Linked DNA regions of Homo sapiens: region 1 is linked to region 2. The links come from fine-mapping of genetic effects on gene expression. A gene starts in region 2. The other region holds a variant in brackets. All regions are shown on one strand. Distances are from middle to middle.

Region 1 (15,712 bases), 120 kb after region 2:
ATTAGACATCCCATTCTGAAAAATTCTGCTAGGGTTCCCAGCTCCTTAGGCCCTCAGTATGTGTTACTAGAGATTCAGCAAAGTGGTAAAGATTTCCCTCAATAAATGCATTTGGAGTTGGACACCTCCCTCAAAATAAATCTGCAGAAAAGAGCAAATGAAGTGTAGGTAGACATTTAGAATCCCAATTTATCTGTGATCAGCAGGTATGGTTTTACATTATTGACACAATAAAAGGCTTATTACTTTCCCTTCTTCAAAAACACCTAAAAATGCTGTTGTCTAACTGGAAATTTCAAGCAGAAAATGCAGTTTCTCATTATTTCTTAAAAATGCTTGGGTCCGCAGACTTTGGGGCTTGCTATAGAGCTCCTCTTCTTTATTCAGGATTTATTCCTAAATGTGTGTCTTTGCATTGCATCTTGCTTTGGGTGTACTTGTGTTTCTAGTTGTAGTTCATTCTATCCAGATCTCCCATATTGATTAACCATTCTTTAAAATCCTGTTAGGTGTAAGTTGTGTCTGCTAAATTATTTGAAAAGTATGAACATATACTATATTCATTCAAAAAACTTTTACTGAATGTCTACTATGTGCTAGATATTGTAATAGGAATTATGCTATATAGTGAAGAATCTGAGAATGAGGAGGAGGATACATTCTGAGAAATGTGTCACTAGGCAATTTTGTCATTGTGTGAACATCATAGAGGGCACTTACACAAACCTAGATGGTATAACCTACTACACACTGAGGCTATATGATGTAGCCTATTGCTTCTAGGCTACAAACCTGTATGGCATGTTATTACACTGGATATTGTAGGCAATTATAACACAGTGGTAAGTATTTGTGTATCTAAACATATCTCACCATAAAAGAGGTACAGTAAAAAATACAGTAGTATACTCTTATGGGTCCACTGTTGTATATGTGGTTTGCTGTTAACCAAAACATTGTTACATGGCACATGACTGTATTTAGAGTGGTAAATACGACAGACTTGACTCCATCCCTCATGGAATGTATGGAAAGTGAGAAATACAGCCATTAGACAAATAAAATGTGAGTTATAGAGAAATGGTAGCCTTTAAATAGTAAAATGTAAGTTTTAGAGAAAGCAGGATACTATGGAAGTCTTGCCTTCACAGAGCTTCAGTCAAATAGAGCCTTTAAAACATGAACACAGAGAGCTAGGAGAAAAGGTAGAATACAGCATGTGCTGAAACAGAGACATAAGTAGGGGGCCAGGGAGCACTAAGGAGGTGAAAGAAACCCAGCTGGAGGAATCCAGGAAGTTTTTCAAGAGAATGCACCATAAGAGCTGGGCCTTGAAGGACAGAGATGAAATTCATTTGTGAAGGGAGACACGTCAGCCAGGGTGTTTATAAAGCAAAACCCAAATACTGTAAATTGGATTCCAAGTGATACTTGCTTGGAGTTCAGCCCATTTTTTTTTTTTTTTTTTTTTTTTTTGGCTGATGATCTAATTCTTGGGCATCTGACACTTCATCCTGAGTTCTATAATTTGTATTCATATTCGTAGGAGCCACCCACGTGATAATGACAGACGAGTTAGGAGTGTGCTCTGTCCTTACCACCATTGTTACTGTCTTCTGCCCTCAGATAATTGTGTCTGTATACATTGGAGGCCTTTCTTAGTAGGTGATTGAAAGATGGAACCTTAGTGCCTTTCCCGGAATCAGGTAGCATTTCCTTGTCACTTTGTGGATATACTAGCTTCATGGATACATTAGCCCATTTATAAGAACTTCCTTTTAATGTGATGCATTGTGGTTTGCTGTCAATGGGTACCCCATTTCAGCAAGAGAAGTGCTGGGCAGATTCTGCAGGGAGATGAAGTTTACCGTCTACGACCATACCACCCTGAACGCACCCAATCTCATCAGATCTCGGAAGCTAAGCAGGGTTGGGCCTGGTTAGTACTTGGATGGGGGAGACGAAGTTTACCTTCTTTTCACACCTGCACTTTCTATGTTCCAAGCCTCCTCAGTGAGTGTATTAGTCGAGTTCTCTAGAGGGACAGAACTAATAGAATAGATGCATATATGAAGGGGAATTTATTGAGGAGTATAGACTCACATGATCACAAGGTGAGGTCCCACAATAGACCTTCTGCAAGCTGAGGAACAAGGAAGCCAGTCCAAACCCAAAATCTCAAAAGTAGGGAAGCCGACAGTGCAGCCTTCAGTCTGTGGCCGAAGGCCTGGGAGCCCCTGGCAAACCACTGGTGTAAGGCCAAGAGTCCAAAAGCTGAAGAACTTTGAGTCTAATGTTCAAGGGCAGGAAGCATCCAGCATGGGGGAAAGATGAAGACCGGAAGACTCAGCAAGTCTACTCTTTCCTCTTTCTTCTTCCTGCTTTTATTCTAGCCATGCTGGCAGCTGACTAGATGGTACCCACCCAGATTGAGGGTGGGTCTGCCTCTCCTAATCCACTGACTCAAACGTTAATCTCCGTTGGCAACCCCCTCACCAACACACCCAGAAACAATACTTTGCATCCTTCAATCCAATCAAGTTGACACTCAATATTAACCATCACAGTGGGGTTCCCTCCTCTACACCTTCGCTTCCCAGTTTCTCTATCATCAGAAGGGCATGCACTCAGGCACATACACATTGGTGCACTGTGTCACCTCTCTCAGCCTATTGGTATGTTAAGCCTCAGATCTACTTATGAAATGAGAAGATGTGTTGGTTATGAAAGGGATTTTAAACATCAACAAACAGGTAAAGAAGGACAGAGATCAACCTGGGCATCATGGTGAGACCCAGTCTCTACAAAAAAATTAAAAAATTAGCTGGGCATGGTGGTGCATGCCTGTGGTCCCAGCTACTGGGGAGGCTGATATGGGAGGATCACTTGAGCCCAGGTGGTCGAAGCTGCAATGAGCCATGATTGTGCCACTGCACTCCAGCCTGGGTGAGAGAGCGAGACCCTGTCTCCAAAAAAAAAAAAAAAGACAGGTCAGAGGTCAGATGAAGGGAGAATTGCCTCCAGCAGCAGTTACACAGCGTGGTTGGTCACTTTCTCCACCTGAGCATAGAAGGCCCTGAATGATGGGAGCAGTCAATGAAGACTCCGTTCGACTGTGTGCTCCCCAAAAGCAGGGATTATGTCTATTTAAAAGTGAGGTGAGGTTCTTTATTGCAAGGTGCCATTTTAAAGATGCGTTGCAATCCCTTCTATATAATATTCAATGCAAAAATAAAGAACATGTAAAAAACTGAACCTGGGCTATGTTTATAACTCCACATAGGGAGAAGGAAGAATGAGGTAATGGTGATACATTGGGTGGAGACTCTGCAGAGGAAAATTTTCCATACTTAAGAGTTCCTATGATGTGGTCAGGATGCTGTTCTGATAATAGAGACTAAAACAAAGATCCTTTACTAATAGTGACAAGGGAAAGGCCACAATGCCACAGACAGAGAGAACTGCATGTCAGCGAGAAGGCACAAATTGAAGCCTCACTATGTGACTCTCTGAGGGTGAGCCAGTTATTCGAAGTTGCTGAGGACAGGGATAGTCACTGGTTTACCTGTTCTCACCTGGGCTTATGCCTCATTTCTCAGCAGCTGCCAAACCAAAATCATTCTCTTCCTGAACTAGTCAGAGTTCTCCAGAGAAACAGAACCACTGGGACATAGATATAGAAGGAGATTTATTATGAGGAATTGGCTCACATGATTTTGGAGGCTGAAAAATCCCACGATCTGCCCTCTACAGACTCGAGATCCAAGAGCCCCAGTGGTGAAATTCTAGTCCAAGTCCAAAGGCCTGAGAACCAGGAGAGCCAATGGTGTCAGTTCTGGAACAAGGGCAGGGAAGACTGATGTCCCAGCTCAATCAGTCACACAGAAAGAAGAAGGAGAGAATTCCTCCCCCTTTCCCCTTTTGTTCTATTCAGACCCTCCACAGATTGGGTAATGGCCACCTACACTGGGGAGGGTGATCAGCTTCACTGAGTTTACTGATTTAGATGTTCAACTCATCTGGACACACTGTCTTGGACACATCCAGAAATAATGTTTAATCTGGGCACCCCTTAGCGCAGTCAATTTGACACAGAGAATCAACCATCACACTTTTCTGGTAAATTAGTCCGTTCTTGCATTGCTGTAAAGAACTACCTGAGACGGGATAATTTATAAAGAAAAGAGGTTTAATTGGAACACAGTTCTGCAGGCTGTACAGGAAGCGTGGCTGGGGAGGCCTTGGGAAACTTACAGTTGTGGCAGAAGGTGAAGGGGAAGTAGGCAGGTCCTACATGGCTGGAGAAGGAGGAAGAGGGCGAAGTGGAAGGTGCTACATACTTTTAAACAACCAGATCTAGTGAGAGCTCACTATCACAAGAACAGGGGAAAATCCACTCACATGATCCAGTCACCTCCTGCCAGGCCCCTCCTCCAACATTGGGGGTTACAATTTGACATGAGGTTTGGGGAAGGACACAAATCCAAACCTCATGACCTGGGTAGCATCTCTTTCCTTTTTCCTTTCCATGGTATGTGTTCCTTTTCTAGAGCCTTCTATGGGTTGCTCTGCCTTTTTACTTTAGAAAGAAAGTTCTAGAATGAGGCTTCATTTACTCTCTTCTTATTCCACCAAATGGCTCTCAGAATAAGCCAAGCACCATGCACATATACCACATGCAATATACAAAAGCATTGGTATTGAATAAGATTCAATTGAATATTTGAACAATTTTAGCACAAAGACTCAGGTTTGTAGGTGACATACAGAAACTACGGATCCTTCACTTACTAATTTTATTTGTAACCAAATGAGTAGAAATTACATAGTACCACTTTTATAGAGAGAGGGAGATTAACAGTCTTTCAGAGGTGGCACATCTTGTCTTCATTCATTCATTCCCTTGTGGGCAGGGAGATGGATGAATGGGCCAACCATGCTTTCTTGAGATAATTCTTTTTGAAAATAAGTTGCATTCTTTCTAGTGGCCATTTTTTTTTAAGTGAAATGTGTTTGAAAAACGTTGGCTTCAATTTGCCATTCCTCTTAAACCATGCATTGCTTTAGAAACAGGCCAGGTTTTTTTGAATGCTGAAACAAGTTTCCAATAAGTGTACCATTCCAGAAGACCTTGTGGAATCCTCATTCTCTTTTAGGTTGCACTCAACCTGTGCTGCCAGGACCTCAAAGATTACACCACTTGGTCATACGAGGGGAGAATCCTGTAAGTTGGAGGCTGTTGGTTATGGTCAAAGGGTTTCATCAGAACACCCTCTTTTTGCTAAAGGTCACCTAGAACTGAGTGGAGCCCAGCACATTTTCGGAGTTGGCTGTCTGTGTCATCTGCATTTAGTCAAGTTTCATTTCCTGTGGTTTGTAGATTTCTTAAGTGTGAAGTAACGAACCCCAAACAGTTAAAATTCTTTACCTAAAAATGGATGAAATGAGAAAAAAAAATAAGTATTTTTGTAACTTCTGTGGGGAAGTGAGACTGGGGTTCCACTGAGCAGTTCCTTGTTGCTGCGCACATAAGGCCAGCCCCTCTGCGGGAAGGTCCATGACACTTGGAGTTCAGATCTCCTTGCTGGGCATCTTAGGAGGTGACAAAACGAGACCCATTTTCTGACAATTCAGACAAAGTGTCTGCTTTTACTTTCATGTCGTGGGAGAACAGTCAACAGTGCAGTTTCCACCAGAACCCACTATATCTCAGTCACACACCCCTCTGATTTTGTGCAAGAGTTGTTTATCTTCCATACAGATTTTTCTGAGTCTTTGGCCACAGATGAACAGAAAACAGTTGAGGTAGGAAGGTGAGAAAAAAAGAAGGGAAACTTATCCTGAGTTTGCTTTCTTTCCATTCCCTTAACCTTAGGGCAGACAGTTTTTTGTTTGCTTGTTTTGTTTTGTTTTGTTTTGTTTTGAGACGGAGTTTTGCTCTTTCACCTAGGCTGGAGTGAAGTGGGGCAATCTCAGCTCACTGCAACCTCTGCCCCCTCCCCACCAGCAATTCTCCTGCCTCAGCCTCCGGAGGAGCTGAGACTACAGGTGCGCGCCACCATGCCCAGCTAATTTTTGTATTTTCAGTAGAGACGGGGTTTTGCCATGTTGGTGAGGCTGGTCTCAAACTCCTGACCTTAGGTGATCCACCCACCTCAGCCTCCCAAAGTGCTAGGATTACAGGTGTGAGCCACCGTGCCCAGCCAGGGCAGACAGTTTGAGGGTTCATGGGAGGCCTTTAATTACGGAAAATGCTACTGGGGATAGTAGAGGACTTTTAGTGAAGACCTGGTCCCCAGACTCTTTATGGGACTTTTTGGTCTGCACAGCTCCTTCTGTTGGGTCTTTGTTTTCAGTGAGAGCTTCCTTGACCACTTTCTGCAAAACTGCAACCTTTCCTTCAACTCTTACTTCCTTGTTTGTTTTGGTTTTTGAAACCACTTGTCACTATCCACACATTATATAATTCACTTGCTTTTTGTCTGTCGTCCCCTTCTAGAAGGTAAGCATCATGAAGGCAGGGATGTTTGACCATTTTTTGTCCTGCTGCAAACATAATGAATGCCTAGGATGGAGCCTGACATATAGGAGGCACTCAGTGAATATTTATTAAATGGGGAATGAACCCTTGCTCTTTTTAAACTTGCTGAAGCAAGTAGATGAATCAATCACTTCTTGGCCTTTTGGCTAAATCAAGTGAAGCAGATGAGTCAGAAACTGGAATTGCGTCTTTTTCTCTTTGTTTTCTGCCCCCAGCTCCTCGCACAATTCTTGGACTATGTAGGAACTGAAAAGTAATGGTTGTTTGACTAAAGTATGCATGCATGAATGAATGATTGAGTCTGGTTTACAACGTGACTTTTGATGTAAAAACTGTTGTTTATTTGGGTACTTAACACATATAAAGCAAACCATGCTAATCCACGGAGAGTCAAAGATGAGTCAGACATGGGTCAGACATGGGTCTTGCCTTCAAGATGCTAAATAGACTTCCTTTGTCCTGAGTTTACTTTCTTTCTGTTCCCTTAACCGTAGGACAGTCTGTGGGGTCACAGGAAGTCTTTTCTTAGGGGAAATGCTCCTGGGG[G/T]TTGTAGATGATGACTTTCAGTGAAGACCTGACCTCTAAACTCTTTTATGGGACTCAACTATCATAGCTTGTATTTTAGTCTAAAGAATCTCAACATTTTGTCTCTATTTCAAATAATAGTAATTGGATTTTCACTGTCGTATAAATTCTTCCCAAGAAATGAAGGTTAGCCAGGTGCTAATTACGCCTGTAATCCCAGCACTTTGGGGGGCCGAAGTGGGTGGATTGCTTGAGCCCAGGAGTTGGAGACCAGCTTGAGCAACATGACAAAACCCCAACCTACAAAAAAAGAGAAAACATTAGCCGGGTGTGGTGGTGTGTGACTGCAGTCCCAGCTACTTGGGAGGCTGAGGTGGGAGGATCTCTTGAGTCTGGGCTGCCAAGGCTGCAGTGAGCTGGGATCGCGCCACTGCACTCCAGACTGGGCGACAGAGTGAGACCAGCCTCAAAAAAAAGGAAAAAAAAAAGTGAAGGTGGCAACATGCTTGTTGCTGGAGGTTTATTAGAAGAACATAGACATGAAAGTCATACAATCCCTGTTCCAAGAACTTAAAACACCAGTGAACAAGAGGCCACGGGCTGTAATATATATTAACAAAGAGAAAATGTTTCTAGAACTCATTTATAAATCTTGCATTATTAAGTGTAAGTAGGAGAAAGTTGGTTGGTTTTCCATCTAGGTTCTAGATTTATTTCCACATGCTAAGTCTGTGGAAATTGCCCTGGAATCCAAGGAGATGTTTCTCTGGTGACCAGGGGTGGGGGTGAAGATTTGGGGCTGGAGGTGTCTGTCTTTGGGAGGGTAAGGCCAGCAATGGTATGCTCCTAGTCTGAAGTGAACGAGACTTCCTGGCCTGCCTATTTCAAGATGTGCCAATCTGTGTCCAGTCCTCTGCCATTTTGCCTTGAGAAGGTGTCAGGCTAATGAGATAGGATTTCCAAGTACAAAGCACCCTCCTAGGCCGAATCTGTTAAGTGGTGTTACCACTCAGGGTTTGGAAACCCTGTCATTCATCCTCCTCAGAGTCATTGGAGAGCAGTCTGTGCTTTCCCCTCTCTACATGGGCAGAGAGCAAATTGCTTCCAGATTTTTCTGTTTAGGAAATTTAACAGATCATTTATTGTTCATAAATGGGAAAATACAAAAATACCTAAAATGAGGGTTTGATTTAGTCCTCTGTATTCAAGGTGAGCCTGATGTGGTGTTGATGGACTGGGCACATGTGCCTTAAAGAGGAGCTGAGCTGCACCTGTGCAGCAAGCTGTTTAGCCTTGACATTGTGCTCACATGCCCATGGGACACCTCAGTAGTCTAGTTAGTATGACCTATTCTTCTCCATCCAATCCTATGTCCTCTTAACACAGTGGGAATGGAGGCATGGAACTTTCCAGAAGTTTGCCCAGGTTGTAAGGTGAACCAGTTACCGGTTACCAGGAATGAAATTTTCAGTGTGCACAAATTGAAGCAGAATTGCCTAATTTTTTGTGTGTGCTGCAAGCTGCGTTTCTACACTCTTTCACTTTCTTTTACTATTTTCTTATTTGTTTGTTTAAAATTTAATGTTGGCCCTTTGTAAAAATTTCTTAGAGAAGGAGGAATTCTGAAGGTGACATTAACATCCAAAATCAGAAGTAAAGTGATGATCTTTAACTGTTTGCATCCTGGAGGAATCTCTCTACCCACTTCTTACTTCTCACTTCCTTCCCCCACATTGGTATAAAAAGAAGAACTTGTATTGCATGCCAGGAACCCGAATGTCCAGTCACTTGTCTCCTTGGAGTGCACCTCTCCTTCCATTCTGATGACATGGAAGGTGGAAATTGTCATCTAGAAATTTCAACTGGTGGTCACAAAGCCTCCCAAGAGAGAAAATCCAAAGTTTTCAAATCTCAAAGATGGTAATTGTTGGCGTTGCTTTTGCAATTTACCCATGTTTTCCTGAAAACCTTCAAATGAAGTGAAATTTTGGCCCTGGAAGTTCCCTGTGAAGTCAGCCTCTTTATCGCCCCCATGCCCCACACTGGTTCGGAGTGGTGTAGGAGCCACCTTACCTTGCTCTACTCCTCAGTGTTTCCTGGTAAATCAGTTGCTGCTCCAGAATTTGTATCTAGGAGGAGCACAGGGGCCAGAACAGGTTGAAAAGACATTAAAGGACTTGTCCTAAAGTCGTTCCTGCACAGCGCTTTATGGAAGATGAGAAAATATCAATTGTTTATATCAGCGATGGGGAGGAGGAGCTGATGAAGTTGGAGTGCATGGCCGACACTCAGCACCCAGCCCCTCTCCCCTTGCCCTTCACTTCAGTGCCTGTGACCCCACTTCTGGCACCTGCATGCCTCTCTGTAAAGGCTTCCTCTCACCCCAGAACCTGCCTCAAGCCCCTGAGGAGTAATTGTCACCCAATCCCTGATCAGACTTTGTGAATAAATACTGCAGCTCACTTTCCCTAGGGTAGGTAGCTGTGGAGCTGGCTCCCAGGGATCCCCAGGAGGGTTAAGCCTCAGTCCCTACAGGAGTAGCCAGCTGCATAAATCCTGTGGTGGCTGCTTTCCCTCCCCTGTCCCGGCTTCCCACCTCTCCTCCTGTTCCCTTCACATATGAACTGCTTCTCCCTGAATCCCTGCCTCAGGGTCTACTTCTAAGGGAACCTGAACTAAGAGAGGGTCCCTTGGCACAGTCACTGTGTTGAACACAACCATAACATATTTTAAAACGTTTGTGCCAGCTACTCGGGAGGCTGAGGCAGGAGAATCGCTTGAACCTGGGAGGCGGAGGTTGCAGTGGGCCAAGATTGCGCCACTGCGCTCCAGCCTAGGCGACAGAGCAAGACTCCGTCACAAAACAAAACAAAACAAAATATTTGTGAGGCTGAGATAGAAAAAAAAGAAAAGAAAACCCTATCAAAAATAATTAAAACACTAAATGCAAACTATCTTCTTTGACTACTTACTACTGCTATGGTTTGGATATTTGTCCCCTCCAAATCTCATGTTGAAATTTGATCCCCAGTGTTGGAGGTGGGGACTAAAGGGAGGTGTTTTGGTCATAAGTGCAGATCCTTCTTCATGAATGGCTTAGTGTCAATCTTGATGGATTGACGGAGCTCTCACCCTTATTTCCCATGAGATCTGACGGTTAAAGAATCTGGCACCTCGTTCTCTCTCTCTTGCATCCTCTCTTGCCATGTAATCTCTGCACATGCCAGCTCCCCTTTTGCCTCAGATGCTGGTGCCATGCTTGTACAGCCTGCAGAACCATGAGTCAAATCAACCTCTTTCCTTTATGAATTACCCAGCCTCAGGTATTTCTTTATAGCAATGCAGAATGAACTGAGACACTACCCCACAGACTGGTTAAAATGGTAGCATTCTCAAGCTTCTTAAAATTCCTTTTCTGAACACAGTTCTCTGACCTTTTCTGAACACAGTGTTCTATGCATCCACTGAGGGGCATTTAATGATTTTAATGATTAGTAAAAGGGAACGGGATTTTTTCACCTTGAAGTTGACTATCGCAAAGCATATCTACTTAGTTACTGGTGTATTTCAACTCAACTTGAACATGCTTATTTGAGCGTAAGAATGGACTTAAATCATAAAATCATTTATTTTTGAATTACCCTATGTGGGCCAAAATATTTGGATTAAATGCTGTTTGTTTCTGTGCAAAATGGAATACATAATCAGATATTTTGTTTTGAGCCTTAAACAACAGCTAAGAGTCTTAAACGAAACTAGCTAAGATCACCTCTGATTTCTTATCCTTCACCACAGAGAGATGATGAGAGCAAGAGATAATAAAACGCAACAGCAATATGTTACTAAAGACCTTTCTCCAATGAATTATGGCTTTCATTAATGAATTAATGCATAGCTGTAATTAATAATTAGGGTTAATATGCGGTCTATATTCCACACAGATATTCAGAAAATAGGAAGTAATTCTGAAGACCCGAAAGGTTATTTCAACTGCTTATGACTGATGTTACAACCAGAGCAAACTCAGCTGTAGATGTGTTTTTGTGGCTTGCAAATTTTTTGAAAATTGGTTGCCAATGTTTAAAAACTGGAAAATTTCATGTAAAAATCTAGGTTCCAATTTCTCTTGAGAAATTGTAAGAACTAGCCAAACCAGGCCTGCATTCCTAAGCAGTGGAAAAAAAAAAAAAATCAACTGGAGTTGCCTTTTTAGCTGGTACCTCCCTATCCTGCCTGGCCCCTGCAGGCATTTGGGGTTTAAATGCCAGGCTTATGACGTTAGAAGAAATATGAGATGAAAGGAAGAAACACAAACAAATAATAAACCTTACAGTTTTCAGGCAAGAAGAAACTCTTCCTTGCATATTTACAGTTGTGTGGACAGTGTTGTGTTTTTGCTTGTTTGTCAGAAATCTCTTCCTTGGCTGTGGTCTGAGGAGCAGGTAAGATCGTGTGGGGTCATTGCTATGGAAACAGGAGAAAACACTAGCCTCAAGCTTGTGGGCGTTACCTCACCCAGTGATCTTTACACAATTCCCTGAAGTTTCCCGCGGTTACATTTTACTGTGTATAAGAGGCTAATACTATACTTTTTAGGGGCATTTTTGTGATTTCAGTAATGAATAATTACAAAATATTTTGCAACTGTGCATTGCCACCAAGGAAATGGAACCACATGGATGACTGTGGCTGCACAGCTAGAAATAACAGTTCTAGCTTGCACCATGATGGCACAGGTGCTTAGAGGTCTCAGGAAAAGTTCCCGAACCATGGGCTTTTCTCCCAGAGCTCTTCCTTGAAAGGGGAACTGAGAGGCCACTGTGTGCTCCTGAGAGGCTGGAGTGAAGAACAGCTTCTGTTCTTGCTCAGCAAGGCTGGTGATGTGAAATTGCCTTTGAGAGCATTTGCCCGCCTGGCTGTGTGCCTGGCACCTTTTAGATAGATTTCGATCAGCATAACTCCAGTGTGCATGGTAATCATGGAAATTTTCAGCTTTCTTCTCCAAGGAGAAACTGATAAAAAGAACAAACTGCCCTTGGCTTTTTCTGAGCCATGGAAACAGAACAGTTCTAAGACTCAAAAAGTCAGGGCACATTTTGCAAAGGCCTGATTCTAGTATTTGGCCTTAATTGTAAATACCGTGGCAGTGGACCATTAGGTCACAAGTGTAATTTGTCCATGTGTTCATTCAACATTTATGGAGCCTTCTCTCTACTCAGGGATTGCGAGTTTTGCCTTCTTGGTTTTGTGTTCAGCCAAGGCCAGTTATGACGCTCAACCCTGATGGCCATGTTTCTAGAAGTCCATGCATCACATTTTTTTCTGTGCCTGAATTCGTTTCATGACTGCTATGCTGCAAGTGGGCTCACAGTATGTGGTTTCTCCCAACAACCTGAAAGGGCTTAAAGAAAATGGATAATTGCATTAACTCCTTCGGATGACTATAACTTTCTCAGTTTCCTACCAATTCTAGTCCACTGGTGGTGTCCTGAGTTAATCTGGTCCAGCTGCGGTATTTGATTTTAGCACATTCAGGAGCGTATTACCTTAAATAGTCTTTTCTCACAACTGAACACAAAACGTCTGGTATCCACGCTACCCTTGATACTATAGCAATAACAATGCTAACATTTTCTAAGTAGTGTTCTTAGAACACTTAGAACAATGCATAACGTGCCATGCTAAGTGCTTTACATGGATTTTTTACTTAATTCTCTTAACAGCCCTAGAAAGTAGTACTATATTTTCTCCCCTTTGCAGGTAAGAAAACTCAAGCTTTAAAAGTTAATTTAACCAAGGTTGCATGGCAAGAAAGAGCTGGAGCCAGGACTCAGTCCAGGCCTGGTTGAGTCCAAACCCCTATATTTTCGTTATTTCCGCAGCTCTGCAAAAACCAATACGTATCTGGACAGAGTTGAGAATTTCTCTCTATAGTGAGAGGGTTGATTTTGTATCTTTCTGACTTAGTGAGTTTATCAGCAGGGATCTGGGATCTGGTGCTCTTTAGAAAGCCTAACCCTCCTGGTTTCTGTCAGGAAGGAGCTCTGCAGGAGGGTGAGCTCATGGAATTTTCCATGTGCATAGAAAGTCATGCTTTGATTGAGATGAAGTATAGAAATAAGAGTCACTGCTTTTTTTTTTTAACATTTGAAGTTGAATATCTATGTTTTAGATCTGACTTCACTCCATCAAAACATTATGTTTAACTCTGGTAGAATCAAAGACAACAAACATCCCTCGAACTTGGCCCTTCTCTCCGACTGTACAACTTCTGTTTATGGTGCTACCCTCCATCCTGGCTTCAAGCTTCAAGGTCATGTTGGATTCCTTCTTTCCACTTCACCTCTGTATGAATCTTATTGAGTTCCTTTGCTGTATTTCTCACACATATTCCTAATTTTCCAGTCTTGGTATCACACTCTGGTTTGGGTTATTATTCTCTTACACCCAAACCATTTTCATCATCTCCTAACTTGTCTTTCTGTGTCCAGGCTTTACCTGTTCTTATAAACCCTACACACCGTCAGATTATCTATTCGCCTATTAAAATCCCACCTAGCCTTGAGGGTGCAAGTCAAATTCTACAGTCTCAAGGAAGTCATTAAGTACCTACAAAAAAGTAATCTCCCCAGTCCCCTTCTTATGGCTCATAATTTACGGTTATGTGTGGATATATCTGTTTTGTTTTGTTTTTTGAGACGGGGTTTCACTCTTGTTGCACAGGCTGGAGTGCAATGGCGCGATCCCAGCTCACTGCAACCTCTGCTTCCCAGGTTCAAGCAATTTTGCCTCAGCCTCCTAAGTAGCTGGGATTACAGGCATGCACCACCACGCCTGGCTCATTTTGTATTTTTAGTAGTGACGGGGTCTCTCCATGTTGGTCAGGCTGGCCTCGAACTCCCGACCTCAGGTGATCTGCCCGCCTCAGCCTCCCAAAGTGCTGGGATTATAGGCGTGAGCCACTGCGCCCAGCCATGTGTGGATATATCTTATCCACACATGGCAGAGATGGCCAGATGTTTATCCAATATTCATATTCTTTAGCCAGAGAATCCTAATATTGTCAAGTGCAGTTATAGCCCAAGCTCTAAAACAATATTTCCCAGGCTCCTTATAGATAGGGCTGGCCAATGATATACTAGCTAAAGTTGTCAAGTGGTGTCTTAATTTGGTTCCCCCAGAAGTAGACCCTGAGACAAGGATTCTAGTACAGCTTGCTTAATTTGGAGGTTGTCTCAGGAAGCGTCAGTAGTAGAAAGAGGCCAATAAAGCATTGCTTATTAGGAAGAGTATCATTTTTGGTGACTGGAGTTTCATCCTACTGGGGAACTCTGGGATGTAGCTCAGACGCTAGAAGTTTCCTTCACTATCATTAACACTTAACGCTGAACTTATCCTAAAATTGGAGTAGAGTGCATTGTAAGCATAAGAGCAAGGGAATATGGTTGAGTTTTTAAAAAATATTATTTTTACTTTTACTATGAGCATATACGACTTCTTGAAATTTAGTGATATAACAAAATAGAAAGAAAGCTAATGATTTAATGCTGTGTAGAAAGAAGTAGGATATAAAAATGTTTACCATAACTGTAAGTACAGAACACAACAACTGATGCATAGTTTTATGGAATGGAGGAACTAAACCAGAATGCTCAATACGTAGCACAATACGTAAGCAATAAGTATTTGTTACTCTTAAATAAGTATCGAGAGGCCGGGCGCGGTGGCTCATGCCTGTAATCCCAGCACTTTGGGAGGCCAGGGTGGGAGGATTACCTCAGGTCGGGAGTTCGAGACCAGCCTGGCCAACATGGTGAAACCCCATCTCTACTTAAAATACAAAAATGAGCCAGGCATGGTGGTGGGTACCTGTAATCCCAGCTACTAGGGAAGCTGAGGTGGGAGAATTGCTTGAAGCTGGGAGGCAGATCATCATGCCACTGCACTCCTGCACTCCAGCCTGGGTGACAGAGCAAGACTCCATCTCAATGGCAAAAGAAAAAAAAAATCAGAGTTAAGAATGAATTCGTTTATTTTCCAAATTTTCTGTAATGAGCTTATATAACCTTCCTAATGAAAAAAAAAAACTGTATGCGAATAAGACTGATTTTACAACCCAAAACAATAATGCAGGTGAAGAGGCTTTCATGCTTTTGCTAGGAAGACCTCAAATGTAGCATTGACAAAAGTGGGGCTTCTGGAAAGCTTCCTCCAGGGAGCACGTCCTTCCTCCTTCTTCCTATCTGGGACATTGACAGGATACTATGGCAGCCACCTCGGACCAGGTGTTGACCCAAGAGATGAAACCATGTGTTAAGGATACTGGAGGAAACGCACAGGACATGCCTGCATCTCTGATGACTGAAGAGCAGCAATACTAACTCTGCACTGAGTGCCCACTGGCCCTTATTATGTGTAATGGTCAAACAATGTGCCAATGAAAAGAGTCAAACTCTATAAAAAATTTGAAGAGATGTATTCCGAGCCAAATATGAGTGACCATGGCCTGTGACACAGCCCCAGGAGATCCTAAGAACATGTGCCCAGGTGGTCAGACTACAGCTTGGTTTTATACACTTTAAGGAAACATAAGACATAAATTAATACAGGTAAGATGTACATTGGTTCAGTCTGGAAAAGGTGGGA
Region 2 (15,712 bases):
AAATGGAAGTGAATCCCCATTTTAAGTTCACTTTGATTTAAAAATATAGTCATGTGCTGGTTAACGACAGGGATACATTCTGAAAGACGTAAAATTAGGCAATTTCACTGTACAAATATCGCATGGATGGTAGAGTCCACAGCACACCTGGGGTATAGGGTATAGCCCATTGCTCCTAGGCTACAAACCTGGACAGCATGTGACTATACTGAATACTACAGGCAGTTTTAACACAAGTAAGTATTTGTGTATCGAAACCTAAAATACAGTATTATTATCTTATGGGACCACTGCCATGTATGCGGGCCCTTGTTCACTGAAACATTGTTACGCAGTGCATGAGTGTAAATATAGGGGAAGGGAGAGGATGTGAAATCAGACAATGGCACTGATCCTGGCCTTATCTACAACCACTGCTGTGTTTCTGGGTCTTATACCCCAGATCTGTTTCCTGCCCCTTCCTCTGCCCCTCCTGTCTTGGTTAGGTGACCTTCCTTCCTCCACACTGAGAAAGAAATGATGCTTCCTGTTACTTTCAGGGACTGATGTGGGACTCCTGAACTCCGTTGTGCGTGCTGTCCTGCTGGTACCAAGGCTAAGGCCTGGGAGCAAAGGTCGGTCTTCCCTTAGGGCAGAGGATGTTCTCAGCATTAATCATCTTGGGGCAGGAAATGACTAGCAAGGTGGCTCTTAGGAGAGCGAGGGAACCCAGGGCCTTATCGCTTAAGCCTAGATTCTAAGGAATCTAGATGAGCCTTTTTTTTTTTTTTTTTTTGAGACGGAGTCTCACTCTGTCGCCCAGGCTGGAGTCCAATAGCACGATCTCGGCTCACTGCAAGCTCCGCCTCCCAGGTTCAAGTGATTCTCCTGCCTCAGCCTCCCGAGTAGCTGGGACTACAGGCATATGCCACCATGCCCGGCTAATTTTTTTTTTTTTTTTTTTTTTTTTGTATTTTTGGTAGAGACGGGTTTTCACTGTGTTAGCCAGGATGGTCTCTATCTCCTGACCTTGTGATCCGCCCGCCTCGGCCTCCCAAAGTGCTGGGATTACAGGCGTGAGCCACCGCGCCCGGCCTATCTAGATGGGCTTGACAGGGGTAAGACAGTCCATGCTACCCAGATGCTGAACAGGAACTCGGCAGACCGGAAGCCCCGGAAGACCCTGCGACAAATAACCTGGGGGCTTTGGGGCACCGACAATGATGTTACCCAGCAAACAGTCAAAAAGAAAACTTTTTTTTAGAGAGGCATAATTGCCTTTTGTAATCAGCAAAGTCTGGTCATGCACCAAAGATGATTATCCGCTGAATTGTGCAGAAGGGGCAGTTGTGTCCCTTTTCTTGGGCTGGATTTTTAAGGCAGAGGGCAGTGCCTCCCGAGGCCACTGTGGCAGAAGCGATTAGCGGGATCCCCACAGAGAAAGTGAGACTCAGGAAACAAGGGGATGCAAGATCAGCCGGGCTTCCTGACTTGGGTCATTATCTTATTTCCAGGAGCCAGCGGGTTTCCTCACTGCACTCACCACACTCACTCATGTGCTCTACTGCCCTTTGGGCTCCAAGAGAGCAGGATCCTGGCTTATTTCACTCCAAGTAGCACCTGACTCAGAACCTGCTCTGCAGTGAGTTCTCAATCAATGATGTTTGAAGACATGGGCCCCAGTGATAGTGCTTTCTCTATGCGCTCTCTATGGAAAATGACAAATCTTCTTAAGGCATCCTGATGGAGGCACTGAATGGCTGAGATCCGCTCTGCTGGTCTCCCCTTTGGAGAGATCATTGGTGCCACATGCTTGATTTTCATCTGAGACCTCACCTAGAACTGAGCATGTTGGTGCCTTGTCACCTTGGGATGTTTCCATGCTATTTTTTTCTAATAGAAAAGTTAGTATTTGCACATGGTTAACAAAATTCAAACAGTACAACAGGGTATACCATGAAAAGCATCTTCCTCCCAAATCAGACCTTTAGTGTCCCCTCTCCGGAGGCAGAAGACTTCTTGGACATTCCTCTGAAGCTTTTCTACATAAAAGTAAGCACATACATGTATATATTTATATGGGTATATTTTTAGATATCCACATGTGCTTAACTTTTCAATTTGCTTTTGTCATTCAAAGTATTTCCTGGCAATTTTTCATATTGCCCCATGTAAGTTGACTTTATTCCTTTTAAATTAAAAAAATTCTATTAAGTAATACTTCTATATGATTTAAATATAAAACATACGTAAGAGTTTATAATAGAAGGAATCATCTTCTGCCTCATTTCCATTCTTCTTCCTTAAAGGCAACTGCTTATAACTGTTTGTCTTTAGTTTTTTTTTTGATAGATAGCACCGTAATATAAATCATATGTTTATATTTCTGTTTCTTAATTCATTGACTTAAAATATTATTTATTGACATTTTTCTATGATAGATGGATATCTCTCCCACTAACTAATATGCTTATGCCTCTATTTATCTGTCAACTTTAGACATTATCTATTGATTTTCTAATAAGATAGATGAGCGTTTAGCTACTTACTACACCCCATCTCCTCCCAACACTGTTCCATCTTTATTTCCAGTTTTCCCCTTGTCACTTCTGCAACATCAAACACCACACTTAAAACTTGATTGCTTTTTGTATCAACCATAGGAAGCATCGTTTGACTTTGAAATATAAGAATATTAGCAAACTCAACCTTCCCTTTGCTCATATCACCCCCTCCATAACAACCTTCCTATCGTTCAAAATCTTTCAGCTTTCCCTTTATTTTGCCACTGTCAAGTTGATAAAATTTTCATTCTCTTCTGCAACCATGGTGAAGGTTTCCATGATTTGCTGGTACACCTGAGTGATATATTGATTAGGACTCATTTAGTAGAAAGTGACAGAAAACTCAACTTGAAGCCGGTGAAGCAGGAAAATAAATTTATTTGCTTTACAACACAAGCAGCAATATGTAGGGATAGCTTCAGCCTCAGGTAAAGATTCATTCAAAAATGTTATCAGGACCCAGGTTCTCTTTCTCCAGCTCTTACATTCTTCTTTGTGTTGGCTGCAGCCTGGGTGAGTGTCCCCCAAGGAGTCAAGATATTGGCAGCTGCTTTTCCCTTCCCTTTCTCAGGTTTAAGTCCAGTAAATCCAATGGGAAGAAGAGAAAGTTTCTTCCAAGTAGTCCTGTTTGGGGATTTTTTTTTTTAACGGAGTCTCACTCTGTCATCCAGGCTGGAGTGCAATGGCGGGTCTTGGCTCACTGCAACCTCTGCCTCCAGGGTTCAAATGATTCTCCCACCTCAGCCTCTTGAGTAGCTGGGATTACAGGCATGCGCCACCATGCCCAGCTAATTTTTGTATTTTTAGTAGAGATGGGGTTTCACCATGTTGGTCAGACTGGTCTCAAACTCCTGACCTCGTGATCTGCCAGCTTTGGCCTCCCAAACTGCTGGGATTACAGGCGTAAGCCACTGTGTCCAGCCCGTTTGGGGATTTATTCTGATTGGAACCATGTGTTCTCACTCCAGTCCCTGAACAGGGAATAAGGGCAGGCTGATTACCTGACCCTGATCTCAGGTTCCTCCCCTGGAACCAGGCCTAAAGCCTCACCTAAAGCACTGAAGGGGTTTCCAAAGAGGAAATCAGGATGCTGTTACCAAAAGAAAAGGGAGAGAATGCTGGGTACCCTACAATAAGAAATTACCCACCTGAGGCATTAAACTCAAATGTCGTCGGGGTCCTGTTTGCAGAAATTTGGGAACTGACCTAATGAGAGATACAGAGAAGAATGGTTCCTGTGGCCTAAGAGCTGTGCAGTCATTTTTAAAAAATGTCATGAGCCAAACAAAATCTGTCTGGAGGCCAAATTGTTTTTGAGAGCCATCATATGCAACTGTTGGCCTGTATATTCCTTCTGAAAGTTGAGAAAATTGGACGGCATTTATATGATTACGACTATGTAAACAGTTTTTTAGGGCAGAGTGAGTTAATGTTTTAAAATTCTCTAGGATCCGTGTCATGTGACACTCAACAAGAATGTTGCTGGTATCAAGCTGCTAAGATTCTTTCCCTCTTACACTCCCCCAGGATCTTTGCTCAGAATCAATCTGCATTGTGACTTACGGTACACCTGCACCATCCTCTGAGTGACAGACCCTGTTGCCTGTCCAACTGCCATTCCCTCTTTCTTCCTGGCTAGGATCTTTTCTTTTGTTTACCTTGGGTGTTGTCATTTATATTGCAGTTCTGTCATAGGCAGTACTGTTCAAGATGCAGTGGGAATGCAGCCCAGCAGGTCTCAGCCTCATTTTACTCAGCCCCTATTCAAGATGGAGTCACTTTGGTTCGAAAGCGACTGGGTAAAATGAGGCTGACACCTGCTGGGCTGGATTCCCAGGAGGTGAGGCATTCTTAGTCAACAGGATATTTACAGTTAAGGGAACAAGTTAATAAAGTTCACTGAAGAGATTCAGGACTTAACAGACCCGGGAAATAACAGATCCAGGAAATGTCCTGATGTCCCGATATCTTAAGAACAAAAACATTCTTGGTTTAAGAGTAAGTTTTTCTTTAAAAATAATAATACAGATTCTTGCAGAAGACAGTAGTTACACCAAGGTTAACAACTGTTTGTCATAAGCCCCTGTAGCAGAGTACATCTCCCTCATGATTTTGGGCTTATATATAATATGAACAAGCATTGCACCTAAGGTGTTTCCTCCTCTTGCTTTCAGGAGTGCCCTGCTCTGCCTGTGGAGCAGCCGTTCTTTCAGTCCTCGACTTTCTTAATAAACTTGCTTTCACTTTTCTCTGTGGACTTGCCCCGAACTCTTGTGCAAGATCCAAGAACCCTCCCTTGGGGTCTGGATCAGTACCCCACTCCTTTCCGGTAACAGTTCTTCTCATATGTCTTGTGATGCTTTGTGATCTCTTTGCGTTTTTTAAATTTTTTATTTTTAAGACAGAGTCTTAAAATATGATGGTGCACAAGACATTTTTGAAGGCTTGGAGGTCACAGGAAGGGATTTAAGAAAAGAAAAATCCATTCTTACACCTGATTTCATTCACTCATTCATTTATTCATTCAATTATGTGCCAAGCCCCTTCTGGAGAGAATCAGCTGTTCACAGTGCAGCTTGCGAGGGGCTGCCACCCAGGCTCTGGAGTGCAGTGGGGCAATCTCGGTTCACTGCAACCTCCACCTCCTGGGCTCAAGCGATCCTCCCACTTCAGCCTCTCAAGTAGCTGGGACTTAAGACACTCACCACCATGCCCAACTGATTTTTAAAACTTTTTTTTTGTAGACACGGTGGCTCACTATGTTGCCCAGACGGGCCTTGAACTCTCCTGGCCTCAAAGGGCCCTCCCACCTAGGCCTCCCAAAGTGTTGGGATTACAGGCATGAGCCATCACGCCCAGCCAGATGTTTTCTTATATATGAACTTGTCTTCTATTGATTAACAATTAATTTTGTGATTACAAACTCTGGTGCTGCGAACATTCTGGGACATACATTTATGCACAAGTATATCTACAGAATAAATTCTTTTTTAAAAAAATTATTATACCTTAAGTTCTAGGGTACATGTGCACAACGTGCAGGTTTGTTACATAGGTATACATGTGCCGTGTTGGTTTGCTGCACCCATCAGCTCGTCATTTACGTTAGGTATTTCTCCTGATGCTATCCCTCCCTCAGCCCCCACCCCCTGACAGGCCCTGCTATGTGATGTTCCCCTCCCTGTGTCCATGTGTTCTCATTGTTCAACTCCCACTTATGAGTGAGAGCATACGGTGTTTGGTTTTCTGTCCTTGTGATATTTTGCTGAGAATGATGGTTTCCAGCTTTACCCATGTCCATGTAAAGGACATGAACTCATCCTTTTTTATGGCTGCATAGTATTCCATGGTATATATGTGCCACATTTTCTTTATCCAGTCTATTGTTGGTGGACATATGGGTTGGTTCCAAGTCTTTGCTATTGTGAATAGTGCCACAATAAACATACGTGTGCATGTGCCTTTATAGTAGCATGATTTATAATCCTTTGGGTATATACCCAGTAATGGGATGGCTGGGTCAAATGGTATTTCTAGTTCTAGATCCTTGAGGAATCTCTACACTGTCTTTCACAATGGTTGAACTAATTTACACTCCCACCAACAGTGTAAAAGTGTTCCTATTTCTCCACATCCTCTCCAGCATCTGTTGTTTCCTGACTTTTTAAAGATCGTCATTACAAAATAACTTCTTAGAGGTAGAGTGTTGGATCAAGGTCATTGGAAATGTCCTCTCTGGAGTATGTATCTGTGTGTGTGCACGTGCATGTGTGTTTTTGGAAAGCAGGATTGCATACTGAGAAAAGTATGAGCTCTGGGGCCAGGTTGCTGGACTCATCACCTTTTCTCATTTCCTTAAGCAGTGCTGTGACCTTGGGCAAGTTACTTAAGTTTCTGTGTCTTGGTTTTCTAATGAGTAAAAATGGGAATAATAATATCACCTTTCTTCTAGGGTTGTGAGGATTAAATGAGTTAATTTGCTGAGATTCATGTCTGATACCAAACACTCAATAACCATGGCCTGTTACTGAGTGTTATTCTAGGTCAGACTTAGCAACACACTAATCAGAAAGTCTACTGTTCTTAGCGGGCCAGTGCTGGAACTCCGATGAGTTCATGCGTGCCTCTGAGCACACCCACTGAGCGAGGAGAGGTGGTCCTCAGAGCCCGGATGCAAGCCCAGGGCCTCCGCAGACCTAGAAAGTGGCTCTGAGCTTTCTTCCTCAGCGGTCTCCTGAATGTGGCCGCTCGCAAGCTGCACTGTGAACTGCTGACTCTCTGTTCCAAAAGGGGCTTGACACATAATTGAATGAATATATGAATGAGTGAATGAAACCAGGTGTAAGAGTGCATTTTTCTTTTCTTAAATCCCTTCCTGTTACCTCCAAGCCTTCAAAAATGTCTTATGCAGCATCACAGCCCCGATTTACTATACGTGTGCTTGGAGGGGCACAGCATGGCACGACCCGACCCGAGTGGACTGTAGCAACCAAGTCAAATGGGAGACAAAGTGCAGTTCCGAGGGGTCTCCAGGAATATCTGGGAGGGGGGACCCTGGTAGAAACCTGAACCCCCTGATTTCTTATGGGTGGGGAATTTGGACAGCTTGCACTTGGGACACAATGAAAAAAGAATGAGCTCACAACCCTGGGAAGCCAGAAACAGCTTGGATAGCACGGGGCCTGCCACACGGTAACCTCTAAATAAATGGAAGCTTTCTATATTCTAACTTTCAGTAGAGACTAAAATAAAATGTGCATTTGATGCCATATCCACTCATTCTAAAGCCATATCTGCCTTTTTGTATTATGAATATGACTGTCCATTTAGAACAATATTTCCCGTATGGCCATTACATCTATAAAATGATTGTTAGATAGAATGAGACTCAGAGGACAGATAGGAGAACAGGGATCTCGGGCACCCAACAAGCCCTTCTTAGTGGCATAAACTTGCCTTAGTCACATGAAATTTCAAAGAATTGGTTTCTGCCTCTGTAAAACGGGAATCAGTGCCATAATATAATAACTACCACCTGTCTGGGCCAAAGAGCACATCTTGACATTAAATTAAAAGAGAGAGCAAACAAATTAATTAAGAGTGGGTAACATGCCCAGAAATCTTGACCCTAAAATCACTATTAACGGTAAAAGCATTACAGTATTACATTTCTATAACATTCCTAGCAGACAGTTGGCTAAGGAAAAATCTTGATTCTGAATTGTCTTAGAATATGTTTATAATTTATTATTTTTCACCATTCACATATTAATGTGTTGAGAAACAGAAGATCTATGTTCAAAAAGGAGTTACTTTCTGAAAGTAGGTGATATATACCATATAGGTAGAATACTTCACATGTACATAATACCTCCACACATAATAACATAATACATAAGGATAATTGTTAATGTAGGGCTCTCTTTTTTCTTTTTGGTATTGTTGAAAACTAATCAAGAACTTAGCCTAGCTAGTAAAAAAAAAAAAATCAAATTACCAAAGACCTATTTATAGTTATCAGAAAAGGCAATGTGGATCCTGAAACCAGGAAACTTGTTTTGAGGGTGGGGGGAAGATTCCGGGAAGATTCCGGAAAGATCCCGAAAAGTCCAGAAAGATTCAGAAAACACATCACACCGCATCTCTCCAGGCGAAAGATTGAGTCTACCTCCTATTTTAATAATGAAACAGCTGCTAGGGTCGTGGCCCTTCTAGGGGTCTTCATTTGTGATGGACAACTGGGTCGTTTTTGTTTTGTTTGGGGGAATAAATATTTGAAGGGGGGTAACCAAAGAAGGTTTTGCTGCTGTTATGATGTTATTGATACGCAGGCTGACGCTATTATGGCAGATGCTATCAGGCTACATTATCTTTATGCCTCCTAGGTAACCTGAAGCAATTGTCTATTGACTTGGCACTACCCTACCCTGAAGCGTCTGCCCTGCCTAGGAACTGTAACCGGAGCCACTCACATGCCTCCCCAACAGCTTTCTTTAGCCACTGACAGCATCACAGAAGGAAGAGCGCGAAATTGCCCAGGATGGACACTTTCAAAGGGGCCCCAGCGGCTAAGTGACTCTCAGGGAAGGTGGCCTTGCCATCCCAACTTCTATTTAGGGGCAACCACTAGCAAGTTCTTCTCTTCGGGCAATTGGAAAGAGTTCCTATAAGCAAAGTGGAGGTGATGTGGACCCCTGGAAAATTTCCTTGCCCCGTTTGAACTTTGCAATGATTCACTGCAAGTCATGTCCACGTGGAAAGCAAGACTCACCAAAAGACTGAAGTCTCCCTCTAGAAGCATGCATCCATTTCCGTGCTCAGCTCTGCTCGCCTGTTTTGGGAATACGAGGGAGAGTGCTTCCTTCAATCAGTCCGGCGTGGCTGATACTCATTCCACCGTCCGTGTGCAGCCTGTGGCCAAAGCAGGCAGACAGCCAAGACACCCAAGCGCAGAAGGAGCTCCAGAGAAAAGGCAAGATTCGAGCACCCATGCAGAGAGAAATGGCAGTGCGAATCGGAATTCAAGTCACCGCACTGCGGCCCAGCCCGCGGAGACGCCTGAAGATGTGCCCGGGTCCCTGGATGATGGGGCGGACTGTGAAGCAGTGGTGTTTCACGCTTCCATCCCCAGACCATCAATTATTGACACGCCCAAGGTGAGTGAGTGTTCGCTCTGCGATTATAGACGGGATGGAGCTGGAGGAGCGTTGGGATCATGTGGCGAATGTTTCAGCAAACAAACTCATTTAACCTTACTGAATAAGGCATTGCGGGCGTTCTCACTAGTGCGAAGAAGTGTGTTAAAGCCGTGTAGATTCTCAGAGTGTTCTCAAAAGATGTGGATGAGGCAATGATAATAAGCACTGGAGCCATGGCAATGACCGAAGGTAACCTTGAATTAACGGGCTAGGGTGCCTTAGAGCCAAAAATGGCTCACTCAATAACAGATTAGGAGTAAGATAGTTTACAAAAACATTTTTTTCCTTTTTCTATTTCCCCCTCCACCCCCACCGGTCTGTCAATTTATTTATATGAAAATCCACAATCTAAAAAGTTTGGCTAGGGAATTCACAAAACTGCCTCTACTTAAAATGAATCACATGATATCAAAGCAGTCTGGAAAAATTTGGAAATGATCATCAGTGTATGCCTAGTGGTACGGAAGGGAACTGACCTATAAAACTATTCATAATATGGATGTTTTTGTGATAATCTTCTGAGAGTTGAAGGCAGGAGGAGGAAGTTATTTAAAAAAAATGGTGCCACTGCTCTTAAGAGTTATTTACTTATTTTCTTTCCATTTTTGGCATCAGTGAATTTTAATTGTTGAGTATTCTGATTAGATGGAGCTGTACAATTATTTCAAAGTTCCCGGTAATCCCAGTTTGCAGATGCAGTGTAGAGGAAAGGTTTTCTAAAAGGTACACTCCAAAGATATCTCTTGACCATTTTTGGTCATTTCCTAGCCAAGTAGCTTAGGACCAGACTTAAAAAACTGAGAAGTCTTTGGGGATCCATCACTAAAGTATTCTGATTTTTTAAATCATTTTTCCACATCCGTTTAACAAATTATTTTTTGGTCTGGCTTGCTTCACAGAATCTAAGAAGCCTCCTTAGCAAGAACACAGCCAACCAGCAAAGATAGGGTTAAAACATCATTTAAAAAATAGTTTCATTTGACACCCTGCAGGTTTATATGAAATGACTGAAGCTTGGGTCTGTCGTCTGCATTCTGAAATTGGACAGAGAGTTTTACCATATCCTCTGTCACAGCAAAAACTGCTATGTTTTTTTCTAGCACCACTAAACCAAAGCCCATAACCAACCAGCAAAAACCAAAATTTTCAGTGTATAGCCACATCCAGATTAAGATATTTTTGGTAGTATTATAGGTAGCTGATTAGAATTCATGGCCAAGTTGATATTTGTTGGATATTTATGGTACCAATGATGTACAGTTTTAATGAACCGGAAGACTTTCTGTTGAGCAATGCAGACCCACCTTATATTACTGAAGACAGCCGCAAGAACAAAGGGTTACTTTGATTTTATCTTTCTGTTTTAGTTGCACATGGGACTCAGGGACTCAAGGCAAGCATGTGAATTCAAATAGAACCAATAACACAAAATGGGGCCACATCCATGTTTAGTGTCCACTTGGCAGGAGCAAAGCCATGGGTGGTCCACAGCGTAGGATGGATTACAGTTGGGAAGCCCGGAGCAGAGAGGACATTGTAACAATCCAGACAGGAACAACAGGGAGATAAAGTGGGAGGGGCTCCATGAGGCAGGACACGCGGCAGTTGACTGTGCGGTCCAAACCAGGCAGGGAGGGAAGCAGTGATGCAATGCAAACACTGAAATCAAGTGCCAGGAGGTGCAGGAAGAGGGCCTGATGTGGGTAAATGGGCATCTATTCTAGTTCAAACACCGAGAGCTAAGCTGTGCAGAGCACTTGTAGTTCGCTAGCCCTTATTCTAAGTGCTTTACACAGAGTATCTCAGCCAACCCTGGTGACAGTGAGGTGCATATATATATATATATATTTTTTTTTTAAGATGGAGTCTTGCTCTGTCTCCCAGGCTGGAGTGCAGTGGCACGATCTTGGCTCACTGCAGCCTCTGCCTCCCAGGTTCAAGCAATTCTCCTGCCTCAGCCCCACGAGTGGCTGGGACTACAGGTGCCTGCCACCAGGCCCAGCTAAGTTTTTGTATTTTCAGTAGAGATGGGATTTCACCGTGTTAGCCAGGATGGTCTCGATCTCCTGTCCTCATGACTCCCCCGCCCAGCCTCCCAAAGTGCTGGGATTACAGGAGTGAGCCACCATGCCCGGCCAGTGCATATTCTTATGGTGCCCATGTTACAGAGGAGGGCATGGATGCTTAAAGAGGGTAAGACATTTGCCCAAGGCCACAAAGAGAGGATGTGGCAGAGACAGGACTGGAACCCACTTCTGTTTGACTCCAAAGTCCATCCTCTGAATTATAATGTGCTTCTACTACTAATTAATTGTGTAGTGTTTGAGGATTTAGGATCAACTATTCATATGTGATCTCGCTTGATACTCAATCACATTTAAATATCATACATATTGGCTGGGCATAGTGGCTCATGCCTGTCACCCAGAGCTTTGGAAAGCCAAGGAGGGAGAATCACTTGAGACCAGAAGTTTGAGACCAGCCTGGGCAACATAACGAAGGTTCATCTCTACAAAAATGAATAAATTAATTCCATGTATTTATATGTTGATGTCGATATAATTATTATTTGTTTTTTAATTTATTTTTATTTGTTGTTATTTTAATTGATATATCACAGTTGTATATTTTTTGGGGTATGTATACATGTATAAATGTGTAATTAAATCAGGGTAACTGGGATATCTACCACCTCAAACACTTACCTTTTCCCTGTGTTGAGAACATTACAATTCCTGTCTTCTAGCTATTTTGAAATACACAATAAATTATTGTTAACTATAACTTCTCCACCGTACTATCGAATACTCGAATTTGTTCCTTCTAACTGTACTTTTGTATCCAGTAACCAACTCCTCTTAATGATATTCAATAACTATTATTATTTGTTTTTATTCATATGCTTTACCCTTTTCTACCATAGCTTCATGGTATATAACACCACAGAAGATGTCCATTTTGCATCCTGTGAGTGACAAAGCTTTGCCGCTGGCAGTGTGGGGGATTGCTTTGAGATCTTCTGATTAAAAGTGGCTTAGAACTGCCCAGATTTTTCATTACCAAGTGACTTTGCAATGGCATGTTTTCCCTTAGCAGATGATGAATGAGATGCTTTTATTACAATCTTGCCTGGCGGAAAAATATTTCCCTTTTGGATGCACTGATCCTCATTATTTAAGCTGCCTCTGTAGAGGCCACAAATAATCTTTTTTTTTTTTTTTTTTTTTTTTTTTTTAGTTCAGCCTCAGACATAAGGTAAGAAATGGGGACAAGCCCCTCTCTCTATCTTCAGTTACCTGATGTTCAGACAGGAGGGTGGCTCATTTATATTGGAAACAATATCTGGTTCAAGAGAGAAAGCTTGAGGTAATGAAGCTAAACAAACTAAGCAAATATGAAACATTTTTGTTTGGTTTAGTGATGAGCGCACATGTCTGTATTGAAGAAATGCTATTGATCAGTCTTCAACTTTTTGTATTCATCTCTTTTCTGTTCCAGACCTGAAACCAAAGTGATAACAACCCTAAAATGGGAATGTGTCTTATAATTGTTAGTACCTCTTAATGATAACTTTTCCCCTTCTTAGTGGTCTTGTAGTTGAAGTGTCATATCATTGATGGAATTGTAGACTCAACGAAATTCAGCAGTACTGCTGTTTATTTTATTTTATTTTTATTTTTATTTTTTTGAGGCAGAGTCTTGCTCCATCACCCAGACTGGAGTGTAGTGGTGCGATCTCGGCTCACTGCAACTTCTGCCTCCCGTGTTCAAGTAATTCTCCTGCCTCAGCATCCCAAGTAGCTGGGATTACAGGCGCCAGCCACCACGCCTGGCTAATTTTTGTATTTTTAGTAGAGATGGGTTTTCACCATGTTGGCCAGCCTGATCTCGAATTCCTGACCTCATGATCCACCCGCCTTGGCCTCCCGAAGTGCTGGGATTACAGGTGTGAGCCACCGCGCCAGGTCTGCTGTTTATTTTTTTAGTCAGTAGTTATTATGCTCTTCCTCCATGTGAGGATAGCATTAGCCCTGGGGAAACACTGATGATTGTGACTCAATCTGTGAGGTTGCTGATGTTCTAGTGGGAAGTTCCATTGGGTAAACAGGCAGAATCAATGCAGTATGAGAGGGCTTATGGCTCAGCACCGGATGGAATACAAACACAGGACGGCACTCCATGTTCAGCCTTGGGAAGAAGACAGGGGAAGACTAGAATACAGGGGCTTCGATCTTTTTCTGTTCTAATTGCGAATCCAACTTAACACTGCACCCAGCCAAGTTGAATGGTGCTGTTTCACTCCTCTCTCTCCCAGTGATGTACGCAGTGTGAGAAAGGGAGAGTTCACACACTAAGCAACTAAAAGTTTCAGAGTAGTTTGGTAGTTTGAGAATGTCTTCCTATAGCAGTTGTAAGTTCCATCTAGCTTGTACTTGAACTGGGAGTAGCCAGCCTCACATAGGAAGAGATAGTAATTGTAGTTTGGGAAATCATTTCTGGGGTTTTTAAATAAAGAGCCAATTGTGGCCGGGCGCGGTGGCTCACGCCTGTAATCCAAACACTTTGGGAGGCTGAGTGAGGGGTGAATCACGAAGTCAGGAGTTCAAGACCAGCCTGGCCAACATCGTGAAACCCCGTCTCTACTAAAAATACAAAAAATTAGCTGGTCGTGGTGGCGGGCGCCCGTAATCCCAGCTACTTGGGAGACTGAGGCACAAGAATTGCTTGAACCCTGGAGGCTGAGGTTGCAGTGAGCCGAGATTGCACCACTGCAATCCAGCTTGGGTGACAGAATGAGACTCCGTCTAAAAAAAGAAAAGAAAAACAAAAATGTCAGTTGTACAAAAGTGAAGGGAAACAGGGCCCATCTTGGAATTGACAACTTCATTGATTTTTGGAACAGGTTGGTTTAGCAACTGGGCAGAGAAGTGGTAACCAAGCCATCCTAGCACCCCAGCAGTGGCCTGAAGATTCACAGGCTCTGGTGGTTACTGAGCGTCTGAGCCTCAGCACTGCTGTCTCCAAACACAGTTTTGTCAGTCGGCTTTCTCTGAGAGAATAGAGACTCCCTGTGTTGCTGGATACAGCAGGGTCAATTTGATTTTATCTTCCTGTTTTAGTGACACATGGGACACAGGGGCTCAAGGCAAGCACTGTGTGTTAGAATAGAACCAATAACACACAGTGGGGACAACATCTGTAGTTACTGTCCACTTAGCAGGGGCAAAGTCATGGGTAGGTGTAGGATGGATTAGAGTCAGGAAGGTTGGAGCATCAAGGCCATGGTAATAAACCTAATAGGGACAGCAGGAAGATGAGGTGAGAGATAGTTTACAAGAGCCTGATGCGTAAGTCAGAATGCTCATTTAGTTGTAAGCTTTGAGCACTAATGGGTAGGGTTGCGCTGACTGAGCCACGTATTCTCCCCATTGGAAAATCACCAGTAAAGCGAAATGATAACCAAAAATTTGTTGGAAAGCATGGACTTAGAGGAAGGAGAGTGATTCATTTTATTGTGATAAAATACACATAACATAAATTTTACCATTGTAACTGTTTTAAAGTATATAATTCTGTGTCATTAGGCATATTCACATTGTGGTGCCACCATCATTCTTTTGCATGTAGATATCCAAATTTCTCAGCACCATTTGTTGACAACACTGTCTTTTCCCCATTGAGTGGTCTTGGCACCCTTGTTGAAATCATTTGACCATATATGTGAGGGTTTGTTTCTGAGATTTCATTCTGTTCCATTGGTATATATGTCTGTGACAGTACCACACTGTTTCGATTACTGTAGTTTTGTAGTGAACTTTGAAATCTCAAAGTGTGAGACTTCCAATGTTGTTCTCCCATTTCAAAGATTGTTTTGATCATTTGGGGTCTCTTGAGATTCTCTATAAATTTTAGGACGAATTTTTCTATTTCTGCAAAAAACATTATTGAGATTTTGATAGGGGTTGCATTAAATATATAGATATATTTGAGCAGTATTGACATCTTACATTTTCTAATCCATGAACACAAGATATTTTCCATTTATTATATTTATGTCTTCTTTAATTTCTTTCAGTAACATTTTGAAGTTTTCAATGTGCACTTCTTTTGCCTCCTAGGTTAAGCTAATTCCTAAATATTTTATTCTTTTTGATGCTATTGTAAATAAAATTGTTTGTTAATTTCCTTTTCAGAGTGTTCATTGTTACTGTATAGAAATGCAACTGATTTTTGTGCAGGGGTCTTTATCTTACAATTTTGCTGAATTTATTTATTAGTTCTGTACATTTTTTGTTTTCTACACATAAGATCATGTCATCAACAGACAGATAATTTTACTTCTTCTTTTCCAATTTGGATGCCTTTTATTTCTTTTTCTTGCTTCATTGCTCTGGTGGAAACTTACAATACTGCATTGAATAGAAGTGGCAAAGTAAGCATCCTTGTTTTGTTCCTGATTTCAGAGTAAAA

What was found. PIP is the estimated chance that this variant, and not a neighbour inherited with it, causes the effect.
Region 1: its variant is fine-mapped to the expression of FAM107B in monocytes (BLUEPRINT, PIP 0.95).

The regions. Positions count from the first base shown.
Region 1 is chr10:14,649,652-14,665,363 of GRCh38, reverse strand. The region is part of intron 2 of FAM107B (family with sequence similarity 107 member B); the gene reads left to right. LOC105376429 (a long non-coding RNA gene) reads right to left here and starts at 12,617. Exons shown (of 5, transcript XR_930691.4): 1 at 12,531-12,617; 2 at 11,398-11,530; 3 at 10,199-10,334; 4 at 9,140-9,195; 5 at 4,783-5,428. It also overlaps the pseudogene RNA5SP302. RefSeq lists enhancers at 5,228-5,317, 15,500-15,712. The variant G/T (reference allele first, on the strand shown) is at 7,088.
Region 2 is chr10:14,767,740-14,783,451 of GRCh38, reverse strand. It overlaps FAM107B (family with sequence similarity 107 member B), which reads left to right and starts at 8,555. Exons shown (of 5, transcript NM_031453.4): 1 at 8,555-9,199. The coding sequence starts at 8,789.